3 separate regions of the Homo sapiens genome follow, and regions 2 and 3 are each linked to region 1. The links come from fine-mapping of genetic effects on gene expression. A gene starts in region 1. Each other region holds a variant in brackets. All regions are shown on one strand. Distances are between the middles of the regions. Region 1 holds the start of PIP4K2A (phosphatidylinositol-5-phosphate 4-kinase type 2 alpha). Region 2 holds the start of LOC105376451 (a long non-coding RNA gene). Region 3 overlaps PIP4K2A (phosphatidylinositol-5-phosphate 4-kinase type 2 alpha).

The links.
Region 2: its variant is fine-mapped to the expression of PIP4K2A in left ventricle (GTEx, PIP 0.95).
Region 3: its variant is fine-mapped to the expression of PIP4K2A in whole blood (TOPMed, PIP 0.97).

The regions. Positions count from the first base shown.
Region 1 is chr10:22,710,295-22,718,297 of GRCh38, reverse strand. It overlaps PIP4K2A (phosphatidylinositol-5-phosphate 4-kinase type 2 alpha), which reads left to right and starts at 3,720. Exons shown (of 10, transcript NM_005028.5): 1 at 3,720-4,115. The coding sequence starts at 3,972. RefSeq lists enhancers at 2,858-3,465, 3,466-4,074 and silencers at 3,235-3,904, 4,205-4,284, 4,455-4,574, 4,875-4,984.
Region 2 is chr10:22,851,878-22,859,880 of GRCh38, reverse strand. LOC105376451 (a long non-coding RNA gene) reads right to left here and starts at 5,781. Exons shown (of 3, transcript XR_930749.3): 1 at 5,663-5,781. The variant G/C (reference allele first, on the strand shown) is at 4,594.
Region 3 is chr10:22,601,847-22,609,849 of GRCh38, reverse strand. PIP4K2A (phosphatidylinositol-5-phosphate 4-kinase type 2 alpha) reads left to right here. Exons shown (of 10, transcript NM_005028.5): 2 at 133-230; 3 at 1,827-1,923. Among named protein-coding and RNA genes, the nearest start is that of PIP4K2A, 110 kb to the left of the region's middle. RefSeq lists an enhancer at 4,608-4,757. The variant G/A (reference allele first, on the strand shown) is at 4,934.

The DNA of each region.
Region 1 (8,003 bases):
ACAAATAAATGCTATGGAAGCACTGAGGTGGAAGGATGAATTTGAATTAGGAGGATCAGGAAAGCATCAGGGAAGAGAGGATTTTTGAGTCTAATTGTTTTCAAGGGCAGGATCCAATAAAGGAGTTTAGGTTGGGTGGTGGTGAAAGGCAATAATTGATGATGATGGTAAGCCTTCAAGCCTGGCCAATGAAAATTTGTTAAATAAAAGAACTTCCAGCTGGGGTAACCGAGTGATATGAATGCCATTTCCAATATAATACAAGAAATAAAGTAACTTGTGGATGGGGAAAGATGTCAAACTTGGCTTTAGATATCTTTTTTTTTTTTTTTGAGATAGGGTCTTGCTCTGTTGCCCAGGCTGGAGTGCAGTGGTGCAGTCATAGCTCACTGCAGCCTCAGTGATCCTCCTGCCTCAGCCTCCCAAGTAACTGAGACCACAGGATGCATACCACCATGTGCAGCTAATTTAAATTTTTTTTTTTTTTTTTGGTAGAAATGAGATCTCGCTATTATATCCAGGCTACCCTTGAACTCCTGGGCTCAAGTGATTCTCCCATCTTGGCGTCCCAAAAGTGCTGGGATTACAGGCATCAGCCAGCATGCCCAGATGGTTTTAGACACTTTTAAAAGATGCCTGTGGAAAAATGATGTACAAATGTGCAACCAGGCATTTCTCTGGGGTCGGGGAAGAGTTTATGAGTTACTTGCAAGCACTCTACATTTTCTATTGTGTTGTCTGGTTTACAAAGGGTTTTCATTGCCATTATCTACTATTGATTTTGATTCTAACAAACATCCTATAATGTAGGTAGGGGAGGATTATATTACTAGGTTCAAAATAGTTCCTAAAGTGACATTTGTGTCTGATGATAGTTACTGTTAACATAAAGAACCCGAGGCTGGGAGAGGTTAAGTGATTTGCTCAAGTAAGTGGGAGAGCTACAGCTCAGTCCCCGTGATGTCTCACTAAAAATTTAGGTTTTGGGCTTTTTTAAACCACTAAGAGCAGTGATGGTTGATGCTGGAGAAGCAGATATCATTTTGGATGAAAGCAAGCAGGAAATTACGACGAGGGGACTTAAAAAACAGTCAAAGAAAGAATAGGAGCAAATGAAGGTGACCACATGACCTCCCCTCAACCCCTGAGGAGACTCAAGATCCTAAAGGGATAATGGCCTGTCATCCTTCATCTCCCTGACAGGACCAAGCAGTCTGCCAAGGGCACAGAAGGTATCTACTATATTTGAGTGGAGTAATAATGACAACAGACAACTTACAGCGGGTCCTCAAATACTGTCATTTTGTTCAATGTTGTTTTGTTATAATGTTGATGAGAAAAAAATGGATTTCTAGCCGGGACCACTGTTTGTATTTGCAGGTTCTCCTCGTGCCTGCAAGAGTTTTCTTTGGGTACCTTGGTTTCCTCTCACATCTTAAAGACATGCACGTTCAGTTCATAGGCTTGTCTACATGATACCAGTAGTTTTTCTTTTCTTTTTTTTTTTTTGTTTTAAGAGACGGGGTCTCCATCTATTACCCAAGCTAGAGTGTAGTGGCATTATCACAGCTCACTGCAGCCTCCAACTCCTGGGCTCAAGCAATCCGCCTACTGCAGCCTCCAGAATAGCTGAGACTACAGGTGTGTACCACCATGCCTGGTTAATTTTTGTATTTATGGTAGAGATGGGGTTTCACCATATTGCTCAGGCTGGTCTCCAACTCCTGGGCTCAAGCAGTCCACCTGCCTCATGCCTCCCAAAGTGCTGGGACTACAGGCATGAATCACTGCCCCCTTCCTAAATGGTCCCAGTTTAAGTGAGTGTAGGGGTGTGTGTGTGTGTGTGTGGTGTGTGTGTGTGTGTGTGTGTGTGTGTGTGTGTCTTGCAACAGAATGGCATCCTATCCAGGGATGGTTCCCACCTTTTGCCCAAGCTGAGCAGCTGGGATAAGGCTCCCACTATCTGTGACCTTGAACTGGAATAAATGAGTTGGAAAAATGAATAAATCCGTGAAACAAATGACTGTAAAATAAAAATATGTAAGTGTACATTAATCATAAAAATGCACGACAATAAATGAGATAGGAGTGCACTCAGCTACCATATTTGTGATTGTTTTTGAATTTCATGGTAGCAGCAGGTCCTACAGGCAACTTTTGCTTTGCAAACACTTATTCCTTGACTTAACCCAGCACCACAGCAACCATCGCTCACTTAATCACTAGAAATTTGGCAAACCATTATCTTGTTTTTATCAATCTTTAAAAAATGTAGGTAGGCCAGGTGCAGTGGCTGGTGCCTGTATTCCCAGCACTTTAGGAGGCCAAGGTGGGCAGATTCCTTAAGCCCAGGAGTTCGAGACCAACCTGGGCAGCATGGTGAAACCCCATCTCTACCAAAAATACAAGAAGTTTATCCAGGCTTGGTGGTGCGCGCCTGTAGTCTCAACTACTGGGGAGTCTGAAGTGGGAGAATCACCTGAGTCTGGGGAAGTAGAGCCTGCAGTGAGCTGTGATTGCACCACTGCACCCCCAGCCTGGTTGACACAGCGAGACCCTATCTCAAGGGAAAAAATAAAAATAAAAAAGAGGTATAGCTCACATTTATTTTAATGTTTAATATTAGAAGTGTTTTGAATTTTTACTTTGAAGTTCGGTGATGTTTTTGTAACCGGAAATAATGCTGTAGGAACTTAACTCTTTTTTTATATGTCAGCCTATGGCAAATTTGGTTTTGTTATATGTTGTTTTGCTTAAGGTGACAGTTTCCAAGAACCTACTCCGTGAGGACTGGTGAGCTGGGTCAGAGTAAATAGCACAGGATGACGACTGCAAGGACGATATGGGGGCAGCAGGGTTTTAGACATACTTGGAATGGCAGCTTCCTGAGGTAGGCCAAGTATTCTCAGCATAATAAGGGCTACATTTAGGTGTATCTGGAGGAAGACGGTGAACAGATTTCCACGGACGGTGAGTGCACTGGAAAACAGGCAGGGATGGCAAGTACCATAGTGATGGATTGGAAGAAGGTGCACTTTGGGGCATGATTCTACTGGTTAAGCCAAGGGCTCTCGATGAGGTCCGAGGTTCCTGCCCCGGGCACGGAGTGGGTTGGCAGTGACAGCCCAGCCTATTACGTGGGAGTCTCCCTCTTGAATGGCTCCAGGAGGCCCATATCGAGGGTCTGAAAGGCCAGACGGTTATCCGCACAAAAGTATTAAGTTCATTTCAGGGACTGACCCGGCAATGTGCCCGGGTCCTTCCCCTCGGTGCTGGGAAGCCCTGGTCTCCCTGCAGCATTTCACACCTGGCTGGGTCTCCTGACTCGTGGCGTGGGTGAGTGCATGAGCCTCCCTCCTTCGCCTGATCGACGCCTGGGGGCTCCTCTCCCCAACCTCCTCACTCTGCCCACTCTGTCCTCTCCCTCCTTGGGGAGCGGCAGGGGACGCCTAGCCGGGGTCCCCAGGCTCCCGCTCGCAACCCACGGCCTCCTCCGCGGGCAGGGAGCGAACGCCCGGAGGTCGCCCGCGCACAGGGGGCGGCCCGGCTGCAGCGGAGCCGGGGCGGGAAGGCGCAGCCTAACGGTCCAGCTGCCGCGCCCCGCGCCCCGCACCCAGTGCCCCGCCCGCGGCGCCGCAGCCGCCTCCCGCCTGCCCGCCCGCCCCCTGCGTCATGACGCCGGCGCCCAACGCGGAAGCCGCTCGCCGCGCGCCGGGTCCAGCCGCGGGCTGAGCGCGGATCCGCGGCGGGCGCAGGATACGGGCCGGGGCGCGAGCCGAGCGCAGTCTGCCGGGCCGAGCGGGCGGAGCGAGCCGAGTGGGGCTGAGCGCGCCGGCGGCGGCGGGCGGAGCGGAGCGCGGCGCGCCGGGGCCGCCGCCGGGGGGATGCGGCTGCCTCCCCGGGCCGGGGTGTAGAGAGGGCGGGTCCCCGGCCTCGGGAGCACGGCGGTGGAGGGGACATAGGAGGCGGCCATGGCGACCCCCGGCAACCTAGGGTCCTCTGTCCTGGCGAGCAAGACCAAGACCAAGAAGAAGCACTTCGTAGCGCAGAAAGTGAAGCTGTTTCGGGCCAGCGACCCGCTGCTCAGCGTCCTCATGTGGGGGGTAAACCACTCGGTAAGGGCTCAGCTGCGGCGCGCGGTCCCCTTCCTCCTCCTCCTCTTCCTCCTCGTTCCCCTCCTCCTCCGGCTGCAGCTGCTGCGGGGCGGGGAGCCGGAGTCAGCCCTGGACCTCCGGCTGCTCGCCCGCCTCGAAGCCCCCAGCCCCGCGGCGCGTGCCCCCAGCCCTCTGGGCCGCCCAGGCACCACCACTTGCGTCCCCTTTAGATCTATGGCCCGGTGCGGGTCGGGGGTCCCGTGTGCATGTGAGTCTCACGGTGGGTGCCAGTGCCGCCCCCGGTCCGCCCGCCCGCCCGCAGGTCGGTCCCCGCAGCCTGGGAGGTAGGAAGTTTGTGCGGGGCACGGCGCCTCGGCTGTCAGCCCCGGCGGGAGCTGCTGGGGGCCGGGTCCGGGCGACCGCTACCCGGTGTGGGGGCCGCGCGGCGCCCGCGTCTTCCGCTTGCGGGCAGGTGTACCTGTCCCGGGCTGGGCGCGTGCGAGCCTCCCACTGGGGCACTGGGGCGAGGATACCGGAGCGCGAGCAGATTTGGGGCAGCAGCTTTAGTGCTTAGGTCCTTTCTTTTTCCTTTAAAGGCAATATTACTGGGCACAAGTCGGCTTTTTGGCAAAGCAGCAGCCGATGTAAATATGGCTCTGGCGTCGGGCGGCATCCCTGCGCTTCTCCCGCATCGCCCTGCCGCTGTGCGGGCTGGAGAGCCCTTGGCGGGGAGTCTTCCTCCCTTCGTCGCCTCCCCCCACTTTGGGGAGTCAGGCAGAAGTCACCGACTGCGGAAGGGCGGCCGGGGCGGGGACAGCAGGCGGGGGTCCCGGCGGGCGCGGGCGGAGGGGGTCCCGAGTTGGCCGCACCCGCTGTGGGGGGTGTGGGAAAGGCTGGAGAACGCGTGGAAAGGTTAGCGTCACGCACAGTCGGGGATTGGAGGATGCGCCGCTGCGGGCTATGCGGACTGCGGTTCGAGGGTCTGAAATAGCCTCCTGCTGATCTGACAGCGAGAAACTCCTGCAGTTTTAATCCACTTCGATAGGATCAGGAAACATGATCGGAGCTGTTGGCTCAGCCAGGAAAGTTTAAACGAGCTGTGAATTTTGACCATGACCTTAGCCACTGCAGTCACTTAGCATCTGGGGAAAAGTGTAAGTTCGCTTTCCCTGCTTTTGATTTCGATGGATGTCTGTATGTCCTTTTCAGCGTAATGGAAATGACAGAAAACCATGCTGGTTTTTCGGAAAACACACACACAGACACACACACACACACACACACACACACCCTCAATGTAGTGAAGTTGTTTAAAATGCCTAAAAGCATCGTTTTTGTATTTTTCTTCCCCAAGCTGAGCAGGGGGAAGGGCAAAACAGTATCAGGATCGATCGTGTTTGCATGGAGTGAGTGTTTTTGGAAAAGTTGAGAAATGATTATTTTTATCCAGCTTAATGACTGACTCACTGAAGTTCATTTTAACTTCCTGGCAACTTCTTTAGCTATTTGGGAATGTAAGTTGTTACAAGAGCATGCATTACTGCACCAAAAACTCCTCTCTCAAGTTTTATTACGGAAAATGAAATGCAATTTTTCCTAAGTAATAAGTTTACAATGTAGAGTTATGTATAATTTTGTTAAGCTCTTTTATTATTTATGTTAGTAGTTTTTGGGTCCCTTATTACTAGAATAGAAACTTACAATTTAAAAAAAGGATGAATACTGTAGTGCTTACTCATATTTATGGTGCTTTTATCTCCTTTGGAGTTCTGGTGTTTTGGTCAGGAGAGTGTTTCTGTCTCGGGGTTTAATTTAGTAAGGTAGTGTCAACAATATGCTGCCGAAAAAGAGTGTGCTTTCTGGGAACTCGTCTGAATTCCAGTTTGCCTTAAAAAATCTTGTAATTGTGTATGTTTTACTGTAACCACTTACGTTGCTACCTTATATTTATGAATTGCTACATTTGTTTTAGAGTTTCTTGCTAATTGGAAATATTTTGAAACTACTTAAGTGTTTCATAGTGTATGACTTGTAAATAGTACATTTGGTGTTATTTTCTTTTGCTCTCAAGAGAAGTTGGCAGTTCTAAGTATCCACAACCAGAGGAGTGAAGTTTCCATTTCATATAAATGTAAGCATGTTACTCATTCAACAGATATATATTGGGCACATACAGTGCCAGCTACTGTGGGAAGAATTGCTAAAACACCTCTAATATTTTTATCCAACTGTCTTTATTTTGAGGGCTCTGAGTTGACATAAGAAAGGTCTGTTTCACAGCCTTTTTTTTCAAAATGTCTATTTTCTTTACTATATTATTTTTGAAAAAAGAATGGAGGTGTAATATAAACATGAAATCTAAAACCCTTAGATGCCATGTATTTCTGGTTTGATTTCATTTTAGGTGACAATGTCTGATATTAGATAAATGTTTTATATGACCTTCTGTGCACCAAAGTTTATAGTATAATGTGAGAATAAATATGTCAGCAGTCTTAAGAACAAACAAGCATGGTGTTGTATACGAGCATCTTCCACATACTGTGGTAAAACGCTCATTGAATCTGCGCTTTAAGTTTTTCTTAAATTCTAACTGTTGACCTTGGGCATGTTAAGGTCAGGTTTTGGCATCAGTGTTTGCATCTGTGAACTGAGGTTGTTTGGATGATTTCCAAGTCTAACTCAAGATTCTGTTTTTTCAGTCTACTAGGTGCACAGTGTTATACTAGGATTTGTAGAATACTATATAAAAGTTGTCTTACTATTATAACCTTCCAAATGCAGCAACATTCAGGGAATTTTCAAGACCTTGACTACAGGGGAAGGAAATCTATGGTGATTTTAAGAGACTGTGAACTAAGGGTTTGTTATATTGAATGTAGCTGAACTGCATTGCAGTCTATTAAGCCAAAGTCGATTTGATTGAAACATAACAACTTGCAATTAAGGTGAAAATGTTCAAGTCCATTGAGGTGGTAATGAAAATCTTGATTTGGGCAATGGTCATAGTCGGGAGTAAGCCTGCCATTGTGTGGTTAATTTGATATGTTACTGCTTTGTAACTTAAAATACCCATCAGTGAATGGATCAGTGCCAATTTTTAAGTATTTTAAGCAGAGAATATAACTGAATACATAAAGGAAAAGACTTAAGGCAGTTTTGTCTTGTTACATTTAGAATTAAACTAAAAATGATCAAACAGTAAGCGTCTTAAGATGATATTTTAATAGTGTGGGGAGGATGTTGAATGATATGAGCCAAGACTTGTTTTAAATAGATACTCTAAAAGATTTTTATCCACAGTGAAATGTGAGCCTTTTAGAAATTAGTATTTTAAAACCTATTTAAATATCCAAAGGAAAACATTATCTGTATAGAAAAATCTTAAAGCACATAAAACTTGTTTAAAACATGTAGCATTTAGAAGTAGCTAAGTATTGATGTTAGAGGCTTTTGGTTTAAAGCTGTAGAAGTTGAAATGAGCTTTGGCAAAAATGTCAGGTATTGAGGGGTTTGGGGGGCCTATCACAGTAGAAGGAAAGGCTGGTAATGGAACCATGTGAAGAGCTGGGTGCTTGAGTGTGTGGGTGTGTGAGTGCGTGGGACTTTTCTGTACCCTTTGGCTCAGTTCTCCTTCATAGCTGGCTGGTTCCTCCACAGAGCAGGGAATGAACGGTTCCTGTATTTCACATTTTGTCATTTCTGCTCCCCCAAAAGGGTTTCCTGTCTCTAATTCAGTTATAAAAATACCGTGGAAGGATTCCACTTGGGATTGGTCTGGCCTTGGTCATTTGTGGCCGTCCCTTGGACTAAGCAGTTATAAAAACATGGCAGCGCTTGCCTGTTGGCGTTGGGGAAAGAACAGTCCCCAGAGAGGGGAAAGGGCCTGCCAGGCAGTTTCAGGCAGGT
Region 2 (8,003 bases), 140 kb before region 1:
CTTGATGGGGATGGCATTGAATCTATAAATTACCTTGGGCAGTATGGCCATTTTCACCATATTGATTCTTCCTACCCATGAGCATGGAATGTTCTTCCATTTGTTTGTATCCTCTTTTATTTCATTGAGCAGTGGTTTGTAGTTCTCCTTGAAGAGGTCCTTCACATCCCTTGTAAGTTGGATTCCTAGGTATTTTATTCTCTTTGAAGCAATTGTGAATGGGAGTTCACTCATGATTTGGCTCTCTGTTTGTCTGTTATTGGTGTATAAGAATGCTTGTGATTTTCGTACATTGATTTTGTATCCTGAGACTTTGCTGAAGTTGCTTATCAGCTTAAGGAGATTTTGGGCTGAGACAATGGGGTTTTCTAGATACACTGTCATGTCATCTGCAAACAGGGACAATTTGACTTCCTCTTTTCCTAATCGAATACCCTTTATTTCCTTCTCATGCCTAATTGCCCTGGCCAGAACTTCCAACACTATGTTGAATAGGAGTGGTGAGAGAGGGCATCCCTGTCTTGTGCCAGTTTTCAAAGGGAATGCTTCCAGTTTTTGCCCATTCAGTATGATATTGGCTGTGGGTTTGCCACAGATAGCTCTTATTATTTTGAGATACGTTCCATCAATACCTAATTTATTGAGAGTTTTTAGCATGAAGAGTTGTTGAATTTTGTCAAAGGCCTTTTCGGCATCTATTGAGATAATCATGTGTTTTTTGTCTTTGGTTCTGTTTATATGCTGGATTACATTTATTGATTTGTGTATGTTGAACCAGCCTTGCATCCCAAGGATGAAGCCAACTTGATCATGGTGGATAAGCTTTTTGATATGCTGCTGGATTCGGTTTGCCAGTATTTTATTGAGGATTTTTGCATCAGTGTTCATCAAGGATATTGGTCTAAAATTCTCTTTTTTGGTGCTGTCGCTGCCAGGCTTTGGTATCAGGATGATGCTGGCCTCATAAAATGAGTTAGGGAGGATTCCCTCTTTTTCTATTGATTGGAATAGTTTCAGAAGGAATGGTACCAGCTCCTCCTTATACCTCTGGTAGAATTCGGCTGTGAATCCATCTGGTCCTGGATTTTTTTTGGTTGGCAGGCTATTAATTATTGCCTCAATTTCAGATCCTGTTATTGGTCTATTCAGAGATTCAACTTCTTCCTGGTTTAGTCTTGGGAGAGTCTATGTGTCGAGGAATTTATCCATTTCTTCTAGATTTTCTAGTTTATTTGCGTAGAGGTGTTTGTAGTATTCTCTGATGGTAGTTTGTATTTCTGTGGGATCGGTGGTGATATCCCCTTTATCATTTTTTATTGCATCTATTTGATTCTTCTCTCTTTTCTTCTTTATTAGTCTTGCTAGCGGTCTATCAATTTTGCTGATCTTTTCAAAAAACCAGCTCCTGGATTCATTAATTTTTTGTAGGGTTTCTTGTGTCTTTATTTCCTTCAGTTCTGCTCTGATCTTAGTTATTTCTTGCCTTCTGCTAGCTTTTGAATGTGTTTGCTCTTGCTTCTCTAGTTCTTTTAATTGTGACGTTAGGGTGTCAATTTTTGATCTTTCCTGCTTTCTCTTGTGGGCATTTAGTGCTATAAATTTCCCTCTACACACTGCTTTGAATGTGTCCCAGAGATTCTGGTATGTTTTGTCTTTGTTCTCATTGGTTTCAAAGAACATCTTTATTTCTGCCTTCATTTCGTTATGTACCCAGTAGTCATTCAGGAGCAGGTTGTTCAGTTTCCATGTAGTTGAGTGGTTTTGAGTGAGTTTCTTAGTCCTGAGTTCTAGTTTGATTGCACTGTGGTCTGAGAGACAGTTTGTTATAATTTGTGTTCTTTTACATTTGCTGAGGAGTGCTTTACTTCCAACTATGTGGTCAATTTTGGAATAGGTGTGGTGTGGTGCTGAAAAGAATGTATATTCTGTTGATTTGGGGTGGAGAGTTCTGTAGATGTCTATTAGGTCCGCTTGGTGCAGAGCTGAGTTCAATTCCTGGATATCCTTGTTAACTTTCTGTCTCGTTGATCTGTCTAATGTTGACAGTGGGGTGTTAAAGTCTACCATTATTATTGTGTGGGAGTCTAAGTCTCTTTGTAGGTCACTCAGGACTTGCTTTATGAATCTGGGTGCTCCTGTATTGGGTGCATATATATTTAGGATAGTTAGCTCTTCTTGTTGAATTGATCCCTTTACCATTATGTAATGGCCTTCTTTGCCTCTTTTGATCTTTGTTGGTTTAAAGTCTGTTTTATCAGAGACTAGGATTGCAACCCCTGCCTTTTTTTGTTTTCCATTTGCTTGGTAGATCTTCCTCCATCCCTTTATTTTGAGCCTATGTGTGTCTCTGCACGTGAGATGGGATTCCTGAATACAGCGCACTGATGGGTCTTGACTCTTTATCCAATTTGCCAGTCTGTGTCTCTAGATTTCAAATTGGTTATTTTTCATCTTATTATTATTTAAATCAATTAAAGTTTTGAATTAGAAGAGAATTCGATTAAAATTAAATTACTTTGCCAAAACAGTAAATCAACTTGGGACTAAACTTTCTTAAATTGCATGTGTTCTTTCATTGTTCACTCAGTCAACTTTTTTTTTTTTTTTTTTTTTTTTTTCAGATGGAGCCTGGCTCTGTCGCCCAGGCTGGAGTGCAGTGGTGCAATCTCAGCTCACTGCAACCTCCACCTCCTGGTTTCAAGCGAGTCTTCTGTCTCAGCCTCTCCAGTAGCTAGGATTACAAGTGTATGCCCCCACGCCCAGCTAGTTTCTGTATTTTTAGTAGAGGGGGGTTTTCACCATGTTGGCCAGACTGGCCTCAAACTGCTGACCTCAAATGATATGCCCACCCCACCTTCCCAAAGTGCTGGCATTGCAGGCATGAGCCACTGCACCCAGCCAAATTTTTTCTTTTCTTTTTTTTTTTTTTTTGAGACAAGGTCTCACTCTGTTACTCAGGCTGGAGTTCAGTGGCACAATCATAGCTCACTGCAGCCTCCTCCTCCTAGGCTCAAGTGATCCTCCCACCTCAGACTCCCACACAGTGGGGACTACAGGTGTGTACCAAGCTTGGCTCATTTTTTTTTTTTTTTTTTCCTTCAAAAAACAATGTCCTACTCTCTTGCCCAAGCTGGTCTGGCTCTCCTGGGCCCAGGCGATTCTCCTGCCTGGCCTCCCAAAGCATTGAGATGAGATGGCACACATGAGCCGCTGTGACCAATCTTTATTGAGCACTGACTGTTTTAAGACATTAGGTAAAATACTGTGAGTGAAATAGAGATAGATTAGCAACCATCAGGAACTTCCCTCTGCAGGTTTGTAGTTTCATAGAGAAAACAAGATTTAGATGCAAATGCTTGTAACAACATTTACAGAGAAATCATGTAGACCAGAGGAAAGGAAGAAAGATGAAGCATCAGCCATTGGAACTTGGACAGGAAGGGATTAGTCCTGGCTTGAGGGAGGATTTGTAGCTGCCTCTGTGCATCCTTTCCTGCATTTTCTGACTTTGCGTTCATTCTTTCTTTCACTATTTAATGATACTCTTACCCTCTGGAATGGTTGAGTTAAAAATTACGACCAGGCAGGTGCAATGGTGCTCCTGTAGTACCAGCTACTCCAAAGGCTGGGGCAGGAGAATTGCTGGAGGCCACAAGTTCAAGACCAGCCTGGGCAACATAGCGAGACCCTGTCTTGACACCAAATTTAAAAATTTGCTGGACATGGCAGCACATGCCTGCAGTCCCAGCTGTTTGGGAGGCTGAGGCGGGAGGATCACCTGGGCCAAGGAGTTCAAGGCAGCAGTGACCTGTGATCATTCCACTGCACTCCAACCTGGGCAACAGAACAAGGTCCTGTCTATTTAAAAAAAAAAAAAAGGATAGACATTTCACCGGCTCTTGCAGTACAAAACAGACATAGTCTCTGGGATATATAATATATAAAAGAACCAAAAAAATAATAATAGTACGGGTGCTGATTTTGGATCTAAAAGATTAAGTTCTTGTTGTCTGTGTGTTAATTTAGAAATAGTCCTCCTCAACATTAACATCTACAGACGTTTGACCTAAGGTTTGAAATATTAGGGAATTTATTCTCTTTTTTTTTTTCCTCTGTTGCCCAGGCTGGAGTGCAGTGGCATGATCTCAGCTCACTGCAACCTCTGCCTCCTGGGTTCAAGCAATTTTCCTGCCTCAGCCTCCCAAGTAGTTGGGACTATAGGCACACACCACCATGCCCAGCTAATTTTTGTATTTTTAGTACGGACGAGGGTTCACTATGTTGGCCAGGCTGGTCTTGAACTCCTGACCTGAAGTGAATCAGCCACCTTGGCCTCCCAAAGTGCTGGGATTATAGGTGTGAGCCACTGCACCCAGCTGATTCTCTTAACTGATAAAGGCCAAAAGGAACAAGGATCGACACTGACCAAGGCCTGACCTCCACAGAAGTGCTCCCAGCACAGGGAGGCCGCAGGAGTAGCAGAGAAAAATTCAGGCTGAAATGTTTGCAAACAGACATCCCCAAACACAGCGTTGGCATGAAGGAAACTCAGAGCACATTAGTCACTGCTTCAATGGAGGAGTGGGAAGACCA[G/C]CCTCAGCCCGCTGGTGAAGAGCAAAGTTTAAAATAACCCTACTAAATTAGAACAGTGGTCAGGATGCTTTTTAAAGTTTGCTGAAGATAAATGCAGGGTAGGAGTCCCTCCAGGAGAGGGAAGTGAAGTATACAAATAGAAGATAAGATGTGACTGGCTACAGGGAAGGATGTCTTAAAACGAGCCAGCAATGAAAATAGATAAGCTGGAGTCAGTCATAACAGCAGCTTTTTAAAGACTGAACAGTGCCAGGATGTAAAACCAAGTCCCCAGAGGAACCATGAGATCACCCTCCCATTATACATGGTACTAGTCAAACTTTTCTAGGAGCAGGGTGTCCATTCCTGAGTTCTAGAATTAAGGGGCATGGAGAACTTGGAGAACATTCTATCCCTAAAGTCAACCAGGATTAGAAAATGGGACTTCTGCAAAAAAGTAAGGGCTCGAGATTGTTCATTATGAAGAGAAAGCCAAGAGTTGATTAAATTGGCATCTTTAATTGGCAAGATTGTGTATGTGTGTAAATATGTGTGTATGTATGTATATATGTGTATTTAAATTCAGCTATTTTTTTCACCAGGGTACAATCTTTTTAGCTATAATATAAATATTTGGGGTTACATGTTAAGAGAATTGTCTAAAAATAGAGTTCAAACCCCAGTTTGAACAAACTCTGCTCTAAATTGAAAGCCATTTGCTTAGGGGTCAGAGGCCTCCTGGAGGGCCTGATCTTCTTGGTCTGATTTGACTTTATATTGGTAGGGATTACTGCCTAACGATTTATTTTTCTTCATTCCATTATTATTTTTCAGGCATCTTTCTTCTTCCTGGTCTACAGTTTGTTATAGTGTCCTCCCTTATCTACAGCTTTACTTTTTGTGGTTTCAGTTACCCGAGGTCAACCACAGTCCAAAAATATTAAACAGAAAATTCCAGAAAGAAACAAATTATAAGTTTTAAACTGGGTAGCATTCTGAGAAGGGTGATAAAATCTTGAATTGTCCCGCCCCATCCCACCTGGGACATGAATCATCCCTTTGTCCAGTGGATCCACATTGTACTACCCACCCATTAGTCATCAATAGCATCTGCTCCTGACATTCAGTCACTGCCATCAATTATGGTTCGATGATCCAGGTTCACCTGAAGCAGATGGTCCTCCTAATCGTCAGAAAGTCAATAGTAGCCCAACCCTACGTCACAATGTCTGTATCATTTACCTCACTGCATCTCATCACAAAGGCATTGTGGTATCCCACATCATCACAAGAAGGGTGAGCACAGAACAGTAAAATATTTGGAGAGAGAGACCACATTCCCACAACTTTTACTGCAGTATATTTTTAGAATCATTCTATCTTATTATGAGTTACTGTTATTAATCTCTTACTGTGCCTACTTTATCAATTAAACTGTATCATAGGTATGTAGGTATAGGAAAAAACAATATCTATAGGATCTGGTACCATCCATGGTTTCAGGCATCCAATGGGGGTCTTGGAACACATCTCATGAGGATAAGAGGGGACTACCATATTCTCCTGTCTGTGTTTGTAACAAGAATGCTGCACTTCTAGGCACCGAGTTGCCTCCCAACCCCTTCCCCTCTGCCATCAGAGAAACTCTCCCACCTCCTCTGCTCTTCCTGAGCTTCCTTCATGCATCTTGCGTCAGCCGAAAGCTGTCTCTTCTCAGAAGACACTCCTTCCAATTGCCCGGGAATGCCTTTCTCTCTCACATGCACCCTATTATGGAGGTGGGCTGCCATCGTCTTTGCTCCTTGTTCCACTTGCATCCACTACTATTGTTCCCTCTTGCAAAAATTCTTGCTTTTTTGGACTTCGTGGTTTTCAGCTCAACCACTCCTTCCTGTTATTTTCTTCTAGCCAATTCCTGGTCACTCCCTTCCCAGCCATTTGTCAAAGTCTTAGCATGTGGACTCAAAGTCCCACCATCCTGCCCAATAAATTCAACAAACACATGGCGTTCCGCTGTACCAAATGGCCTCTGATTCCTCAAGTTCTCATCTGCAATAGCTCTTCCACTCCACTCAAATCATCCATCCTAGTGCACACACATTGGGTCTTCCTGTCACTCCCCAGTCCCCCACTTGCAGAGTCACTGAAGCAAATGTCCTCTGAGCATCACTACTTCCCCTTGCCCTGGCTGACTCAGCTCCTTCCACTGAGGCCATTCCTCAGCCCCATCAGGATTTCAGGCTTGCAGCTCCATCCTCAGTCTCTCAGTGCCTTGACCTTGTCCCGTCTGCACATCCTCCTCATCTGGCAGATGCCAAGGGTTCAGCAAGTTGATAGCCCTTTTGCCAATACTCTATATTCCCTTGCCCTTTGAGCTTTTTTTGTTTGTTTCCCTCTTCTGGCAAACTCTCACCCCTAATGAATCCAGCTATTTGCATTCCAACCCCCAGCAGCTGAACTCTTCTGAAGAAAGGCACGCAATGGAGCAGACTGGCTTTATTGTAAATGCATAAAAATGAATCTCAGGGCCGAGTGCGGTGGCTTATGCCTGTAATCCCAGAACTTTGAGAGGCTGAGGTGGGCTGATCACTTGAGGTCAGGAGTTTGAGACCAGCCTGGCCAACATGGTGAAACCCTGTCTCTATTAAAAATACAAAAATTAGATGGGCATGCTGGTGCAGCATGCCTGTAATCCCAGCTACTCAGGAGGCTGAGGCAGGAGAATCGCTTGAACTTGGGAGGCATTAGTTGCAGTGAGCCCAGATTGCACTACTGCACTCCAGCCTGGGCAACAGAGTGAGACCCTGTCTCAAAAAAAAAAAAAAAAATGAATCTCAGATGGACCCTCTTACTACATATTTTGATTAACTCACTCTCCTACTTTCCATCAAAACTTCTACAGAGCTTCTCCCCTCCTTTGGTGACAGCCACTCTCACACCACATGCACACACAAACACACGCATCTGCCCCTTCTTCCTCAAACTCAGCAGAAACTTTGCCATCTACAACACAAAGAACATTGAAGCTGTAACAGAAGGACTCTGGGATTGTTCAGAACACTCTTTGCCAGGCTCTGGTGGTGCAGGACTTTTTTGTCTTGCCCTCATCTCTCTGGCTACCCCATTTCCTTTGTACAAACCTGGCCATTAAATATCCACCATGTTATGCCAGAACTTTTCCTCACTCCACGTGCTTTTCTTAGGCATTCTTAGCAATGACAAACTTGCACAGATGACTCACAAATGCATATCTCTAGACCAGACATTCCATCGGCGCCTCCGACCCATCTGTCCACCTGTCAACCTGTCATCTCCATGCAGACATCACAAAGGCACAGCAAAAGTTCCTACCTAAATCACGCATCTTCCCACCTTCCAATCCATGCTCTTCTTCTACCTCTCTTATTTCAGCACAAGATACTACCATCTTT
Region 3 (8,003 bases), 110 kb after region 1:
GGAGGGTGGGTTGGTGGGTGGGAAGAGAAGTTCCTGTGTCCACCATGTTTTTTTTCCCAAGGTACACATTCAAGTCAAGTCCTCCTCACCTGGATAGTAATAACCCATGCTATTTATTTTATATTTTTCCAGATCAATGAACTGAGCCATGTTCAAATCCCTGTTATGTTGATGCCAGATGACTTCAAAGCCTATTCAAAAATAAAGGTGGACAATCACCTTTTTAACAAGTAAGTACAAGTATGACCTTTCATAAGACTAGCGTGGCTGCTAGGAGTACAAGTTTTGTGAATTTTTGTAATCACATAATTTGTCAATGGGTGGGAGTAAAGTTTTGCTGATGAAGTTAATCCTGTGATAAACATAACCATCTGTCATTTTTAGAGAAGCAACAGCAGGCTCTCTGGGATAATATCCTTTGCCATATGGCATATTGTTCTCTATGAATATCTTATACGTTGAAAGTGATATTCTCATTATAATTCAAATTTTTGAAGCTGTAAATTGCTTGGATTTTTGAGCAGTTATGAACCTCTGCTCTTGTACACAGAACTTTGAAAATGATGATTTATGAACAGCAATGACTCCATCTTAGAACAATAAAGACCCAAGGTACATTTTCATAAGGCACAATTAGATGCCATGTTGGGCATTGATAACATTCCTCCTTCATTTGAATGTTGTTTTAGACGTCATTATGAAGCACCTATTATATGTTAGGTGGTCCATTGAGAGCTAGAGATGCAATGATATAGAAGACACGGCCCTGCCCTCAAGGGGCTCAGAGTACAAAAACTGACACATATACAAACTGCTATAGTTCAGTGTGCAAAGTATGATAAGGGAGGGGTGTGTGCATATGTATAATTTAATTTATCTGGTTGTGTGGGAACACAAAGAGGGAAACAATTCTGAATGATTAGGGTGAACCTCAAATCACTCCCATGTGAGGATCATTATGAAATTTTTTTTTGAGACAGGATCTTGCTCTGTTGCTCAGGCTGGTGTGCAGTGGTGAAATTATATCTCACTGCAGTCTCAAATTCCTGGGGTCAAGCAATCCCCCTTCCTGAGCCTTCTGAATAGCTGGGACTACGGGTGCAGGTTACCATGCCCAGCTGATTTTTTAAAAAACTTTTTGTAAAGACAGGGGTCTCACTATGTTCCCCAGGCTGGCCTCAAACTCCTGGCCTCAAGAAATCCTCCCACCTCAGTCTCCCAAAGTGCTGGGATTACAAATGAGTGGTGTAAGCCACCATGCCAGGCCAATTATGAAATTTCTTCAGGGGGCCATTGTCCTTATGTGAAGCTGATGTTAATTTTTCTCATAACAGTGTTTAGAAGCTGACTTTCAGGGAATTTCCTCTAAGCAAATTTAGAATGTGGCATTTATATAAAACAGGCCTTTTAGGGGGGTGAGGGAGTGGCCCTCCTTTCCTCAGCAGTAGCTGAGAGGGAACCTTGCTCCGCTGCCTCTTCCTAACTCACTCTCCCGCCATTGTGCTTTTCCCTCACTGCTCCCCCTGCCTGGCCCGTTCCTTCCCCACCTCTTGTTCTTTGAGGAATGGCTGCAGTGTGTGGCCAGGATTTAAAGAGGTCACATAGTCCAAGCGTGCCTGTGACAAAGGAGACAGACAGACATCCGTCTGGCCCCCTGTGTCTCCTGGATCTTTCTGCGGGTTGTACCTGGTTCTAGGAAGCACACCTGTGCTTTTGGTAGGCAGTGAACTCTGAACCCTTCTTTGGCTACCTGTGGAACTCAGTGGTGGCAGATGCAAGTCTGATTGACTCTCTCTGAGCTTTATTCCACGCTGTGACTGTTTCAGAGAAAACATGCCGAGCCATTTCAAGTTTAAGGAATACTGCCCGATGGTCTTCCGTAACCTGCGGGAGAGGTTTGGAATTGATGATCAAGATTTCCAGGTGAGTTGCGTTTGTAACATTTGCTTCCAGTAGGAAATGGGTTTTGCCATGACTTTTGCTGTGTCAATTGGGATCTGTATTTTTGTCAATAAAAGTATTATATAATAGTAATTTTCATTTTGTGTAAGAAGTTTTTAATGTTCATGCTGAAGTAAAGTGTTCTCTTGATTGGGGACCTCTATACATATGATACCGGTATAAAAGTCAGTAGGAAAATATATTACTTTTCTTTGGAAGGAGACTGAGCATGTGAGGGTTTTATATAATACTCTCATTTCCAGGTGGAAATTAACAGGCTAGCAGAGCTGCCTGTTAATTTCTGCTGTCAGACATGTCAGTAGCCTGTGTGAGTGTGCATGTTTTGTATCTTCGTAGAGGCTACTTAGGACTCTCAGGAATCTTTATCTTGCTGATTTGCTGCTTTTCAAGTTGGTCAGACTCTTGCTGCAGCATTTTTGTCAAAGGGCACCCTTTGTGCACTGCAGTGCTGGACTGTGGAGTGACCATAGCACTGTGGTCAGCACCAGGAACCCAACATCCTGGGCGTGTCCTGTGGTACATCTTCCTCTTCATCTTGATTCCCACCACGTAAAAATGTGCACTGCTGCTCTCCTCCCCACACTGGCCTGGTCCTTCATTCTAACTTTTAAACATCTGTTTTAACTCTTTAAATAACTGTTGAGCCATGATCATTTTTTTCTGAGAAAGGATTTGACATTGGTTACCCAAGTTTCATATAGCGAGCCAGATTCGTAAATGCTAAGGATTTTTTTTAAAAGTGGAAATCCAAGGGACAGGTTGAGTATCCCAATCAGAAAATCTGAAATCCAAAATGCTTCCAAATCGAATATTTTCTGATCATCAACGTGATGCCACAAGTGGAAAATTCCACAGTTAAGTGCTCAACACAGCCTTTGTTTCATGTACACAATTATTTAAAATATTGTATAAAATTACCTTTAGGCTATGTGTATAAGGTGTATATGAAATAGATAAATTTCGTGTTTAGACTTGGGTCCCATCCCCAAGATATCTCATTATCTTTGCAAATATTCTGAAATCTGAAAAAATCTGAAATACGACTGGCTGCAGGCATTTCAAATAAAGGATGCTCAGCATATACTGACTTAAGTCCCTTCAAATCTAGTCCTAATCTGCCCTCAATTTAAGATCTGAATTTATCCTGCATTAAGTGACATATTGCCACCCTGGGTGACTACAGATTGAGTACTGATACAGCTTACCCTGTATTTTCCTCTGAAGAATAGGGTCCCTCAGGCAAACTGAGATAGTTAGCACACTTTCCTAAAGATCTGTGCTCCCACTGCCCTCTCTGTACCATTGCCAAAAATTTCCAGGAATTTTTCATATGTTTACTCAGGCATGAGAGAGGCTGCCATGTTTGGAGAAAGCAGCGCTGACCAGGCTGCCGGTGACATTGTCTCATGATGGCCTGGGGTTGTGGTTTACATGGAGGTCCAGACCCTGAGCTGAGGCTCTGTGTACACAGAAGAGCTGAGGGCTGGCTAGTGGGACAGGAAGGATGTGGTTGCTCATCTGCTATTAAAACTGCGTGGGAGCCAACACTCCTGTTAGGGCGTTTCTTTTTTTTTCTTGATACAAGGTCTTGCTCTGTTGCCCAGGCTGGAGTACAGTGGTGTGATCATAGCTCACTGCAGCCTCAAACTGCTGGGCTCAAGTGATCCTCCGACCTCAGCGTCCAGAGTAGCTAGGACTACAGGTGTGCACCACCATGCCCAGCTAATTTTTTTTTTTTTTTTGGTAGAGATTGGGGTCTCACTATGTTACCCAGGCTGGTCTCAAACTCCTGGCCTCAAGCCGTCCTCCCAGAGCATGAGCCAGTGCACCTGGCCTTGGGGCTTAATTTTTAAGAGAGAACTTAGATCACAATTATGGACTTGAAATTTACTGCTGTAAAAATAATTAACTTTAACAGAAAATTATTAGAATAGTAAAAAGCATTTCTCTGAAGTTAAAATTAATAATTCTGTATCACTTTAGAACCATTACTAAATTTAAAGAGGCCACCTGAAAATGAACTAGGTGCTTTTTTTTTTTTTTTAAAGGAATTAACAGCAGATAGCTTCAGTGTCTTAAGAAAATCTCCTCTGCCTTAAGAAAAGCTGAACACCAGTGTGTTCCTCCTTCTCTCCACGTCCTTTTTTTGTTTGGCTGGGTTTTGTTTTAATAAAACAATTCCACTGGCATTTCACAGAAACTGACTTTTGAGGGCCCATGCATCTATCTTATCTTGTTAGATTCCTCAATTCATTATTGAAATGAAGTCTTTCTATTTCTTGTCATAATCAATTCTGTCAAATGAGATCCAAAATGAACCCATTATGGTCTGAGTTCTGCACTGCAGCAGAGAAAAGTAGTTTTTAAAATTTCCTCAAATGACCAATTTAGTTGCTGAAATGCAAAGACATGAACTGGTTTTCCTTCCCTTTTTTTCGCCCTACAAAGAAAACTACGTAAGTTGATATTGAAGTCAGTACAAATTGCTGAGTACAAACTTTGAAAGAAAATTAGGCAAGTGGAGGATGATTCACAAGTAACTAATTGGCAAGTCCGTTAAACTCTTCACATGAGAGCTCCCTGTTGGGGAGAGTGGTGTGAGTGTGATTAATCATTCGAACACTCCTCCTTTCCTTAGCTCTGCCTGCTGCTTTCTCTTTGGCAACTGTATTTCTATTAAAAAAAGAAAAAAAAGAAAGAAAAAGTGTGTATTCAGAGTCACTTCAGTACTGCAGAGGTATACTCTTCTTCCCTCCTCAGTCGTATATTTCTTTCCCAGTGTCTGTACCTCTTAAAATTCTTCAGTAGGGTCAGGGACCCTGAGTTCCAGCTGAAAACAGGATCGTAAATCTGGGGCTGTATCCCAGTCTTTTGGCTACTTGGTTTGGAAGAAAGGAGGGTCGTTGTGACAGCTCTGGCTCCAGGGTCACCTCGCAGGCCCCTGTATACTGCAGGGATTCAGGCGGCAGGC[G/A]GGCAGGGGCCAGGACCTGGGGCTTCAGCTGCCTGGCACATTGTTACTGCCCAGACAGTTCAATCCTCATGCCCAGTTCAAGTAACAGGTATCATTTGGCACATGTGGCGCCAAATGACTAAAAGCAACCTTGTTTTCCTCTCCTGGAGCTTGCCAATGTGCCTTTGCTGAGTAGAGTCTCCCACCGGCCGCCTCTGTCACTCCTGGGTACTGGCTGCTGAAGACTGCGTATATCGGAAAAAAACCAACTCTCTTTCTGAGCTTATCAATGTGAGCTGCTTTTTGAATACTCTTTCCCAACTGACTTGGAAAGTAGGATCAGTGACCTAGGCTCTCATAGTGTTTTGGAGGACACTGGATAGCTGAAGGGGAACAGGCATTGCCTGCTGTGTTTATTTTTCCAAACTGCTTGCATTTTGGACAAGCGGCTCTAAATCAATGTGGTGGTTAGGGGCTCCATCGTCTGGTTTATCTCGTATTCAGACCTTTCCATTCAGCCAAGTGGGTAAATGGTCCCGACTTGTCTTGTTTGTGTGACCACCTTTTTGCTACACCTGAAAAAAGTAGGTATTGGTCTGTGGAGACCACTCTGATTAAAGCAGAGCATGGTTAAGTAGTAACCTATGCAGTTGACCCCTACTGGTGAATTTAAACTTCTTAAAAAGTTTTTAAGATAAATGAAAAGGATAATGAAATGAAAAATGAAAACATTCCTGCTTTCTCAGTAAACATTTGTATCTTTCCTCTGGTTTTGATTTCTGGAATATCTTTTAAAAATGACTTTTCCTTGTTGTTAAAGACAAATTCAAAGAACAATTCTAGAATATCCATTGTTAATAACAGTACCACAGTACCATGTAACATACATATGTAAACCTCTGTGTGTGTGTGTGTGTGTGTGTGTGTGCGTGCGCGCGTGTGTGCTCGCGCATGTGTGTAACCAGTGCTTCTAGATTCAGAACTTTTTCCAATTCATTAGGGCATTTTTAAATTGCATGATAGGTTTGTAATATGCTCAGGGTTGAATCAGTGTGTCATCAAGGTTCTGATCATTGTTTGGCCAGCATGATATCCATCGTCATACTTTAAAGGTGTGTTTCAGGATGAATGCTGCCTGGGAGGCCTGTTCTGTGACTATAGCCGCAGTCCTGTGTCTACCATTACCACTGCCCCCTTAAGCCCTGATCACCCTGAGGTCTGGGATTTCATGCATAATTATCCAGTCAAAGTATTTGTTTGTACCTACCACATGTCAGGCTCTGTGCTAGCCGTTTTAGGGAATGCAGAGAGAAGAAAGGGTGAAGCATCACTTTCTTTAAAAACTATTGCATACCAGATTCTGTATTAGATGCTAACGAGATTTACAGAAACCCAGCATCTTGATTTGTAATGTTCTTCATGAAAATCTGCACCCCTCTTTCCAGTCTCTTATACTCATTTGATCGTCTCTTATGTTTATACCCAGAGAGACTGGAAAGAGGGGTGCAGATTTTCATGAAGAACATTAAACAGCCCTGGGAAGTCAAACGGAGGCTTCAGTTACATTTAGTAGCTGCCAGAGAGGGTTGCCTCCCAGAAACCAAAAAGTTATGCAGGAGGGAGCTGATGCTGTTAAACCTAAATAGACCACACATTTGAAAGTGAGGCCTCTTGTTCACTGTGGAGGATAATACCAGGTTTGCTTTTCCCCTACTGTGACTCCTGAATTAGAATCCCTCATTATTGACATCTGATGCCCTTTCTTCTTTGTGTTTGTAACAGAGAATTCTAATTTTAAAATAATTAATTTTAAGAGCTAACATTTTAAACTTTTGATATTCTTATTTCAAGTTTAGAAATAAAATTCTAAAGTGTTAAGACCTTCAGTGTATACTAAACTTGAAGTGGGGCAGCAGGAATTCTGCCTTTATCTCTAGAATATCAAGTCTATCCTCTGAAACTTTCACTTGTAGATTTCTCACTTTTGACTTTAAACTGCCTGAGGGCAGGAGCAGTGTTTGTGTTTGCTGGCTGCCTGTCACCCGTTGAGCACAATGCTGGGCTCAGCAGGCACTTAAGAAATATTTGCAGTCAGGACAGTGGCCACACCTGTAATCCCAGCTACTCAGGTGGCCAGTGCAGGAGGATCTCTTGAGCCCAGGAGTTCGAGACCAGCCTGGGCAACACAGTGAGACACCATCTCTAAAAACATGAAAAATAAATAAGTAAATAAGAAATACTTGTGAAAGAGAGTGAGGGCTAATGGGGACTTTGAAGAGAAGTGAACTCTCTGGGCCCAAGCGGAAGGCAGGAGAGCCCATGAAATGTGAAGGTATTTGGATGGTGGCAGAATAGTGGGAGATAAAGATGTTAAAATAGCAAGAAACACAAAGACACCAGGGACACTGGGCCGATTCTGCTGCCAGCGAGCAGCCCTGTGGGTTTTGCTCAGGGGAATGGCAATGTCATGACATCTGTATTTTCTTTTCTTTTCTTTTTTCTTTTTCTTTCTTTCTTTTCTTTTCTTTTCTTTTTTTTTTTTTATAGACAGAGTTTCACTCTGTTGCCCAGGCTGGAGTACAGTGGCACAATCTTGGCTCACTGCAGCCTCCCAACTCCTGGGCTCAATCGATCCTGCCACTTCAGCCCCCTGAGTACCTGGGACTACAGGTATGTGCCACTATGCCCAGCTAAGTTTTGTAATTTTTGAAGACACAGGGTTTTGCCATGTTGCCCAGGCTGGTCTCGAACTCCTGGGCTCAAGCGATCCACCCACCTTAGCCTCCCAAAGTACTGGGATTACAGATGTGAGCCACTGCACCCACCCGAGGTCTGTATTTTCTAAAGATAACTGCATTGTAATTTATAGAATGCATAGAAGGGAGATAAGGAAATCAGGAGGCCATGAAATCCCAGTGAGCCAAGCCTCCGTCACCCACCATGTAAAGCACGGAGCAGCTTGAAAAGACATTGAGAGAAGTAAACCCACAGGTTCAGTGGCCAGTGGCAAAGGACAAGAGCCACAGAGGCACTGGGACCTGAAAGCTAAGAGAGCAGGGATGCGGGTCACAGAGGGAGGGATGTTTGGGGC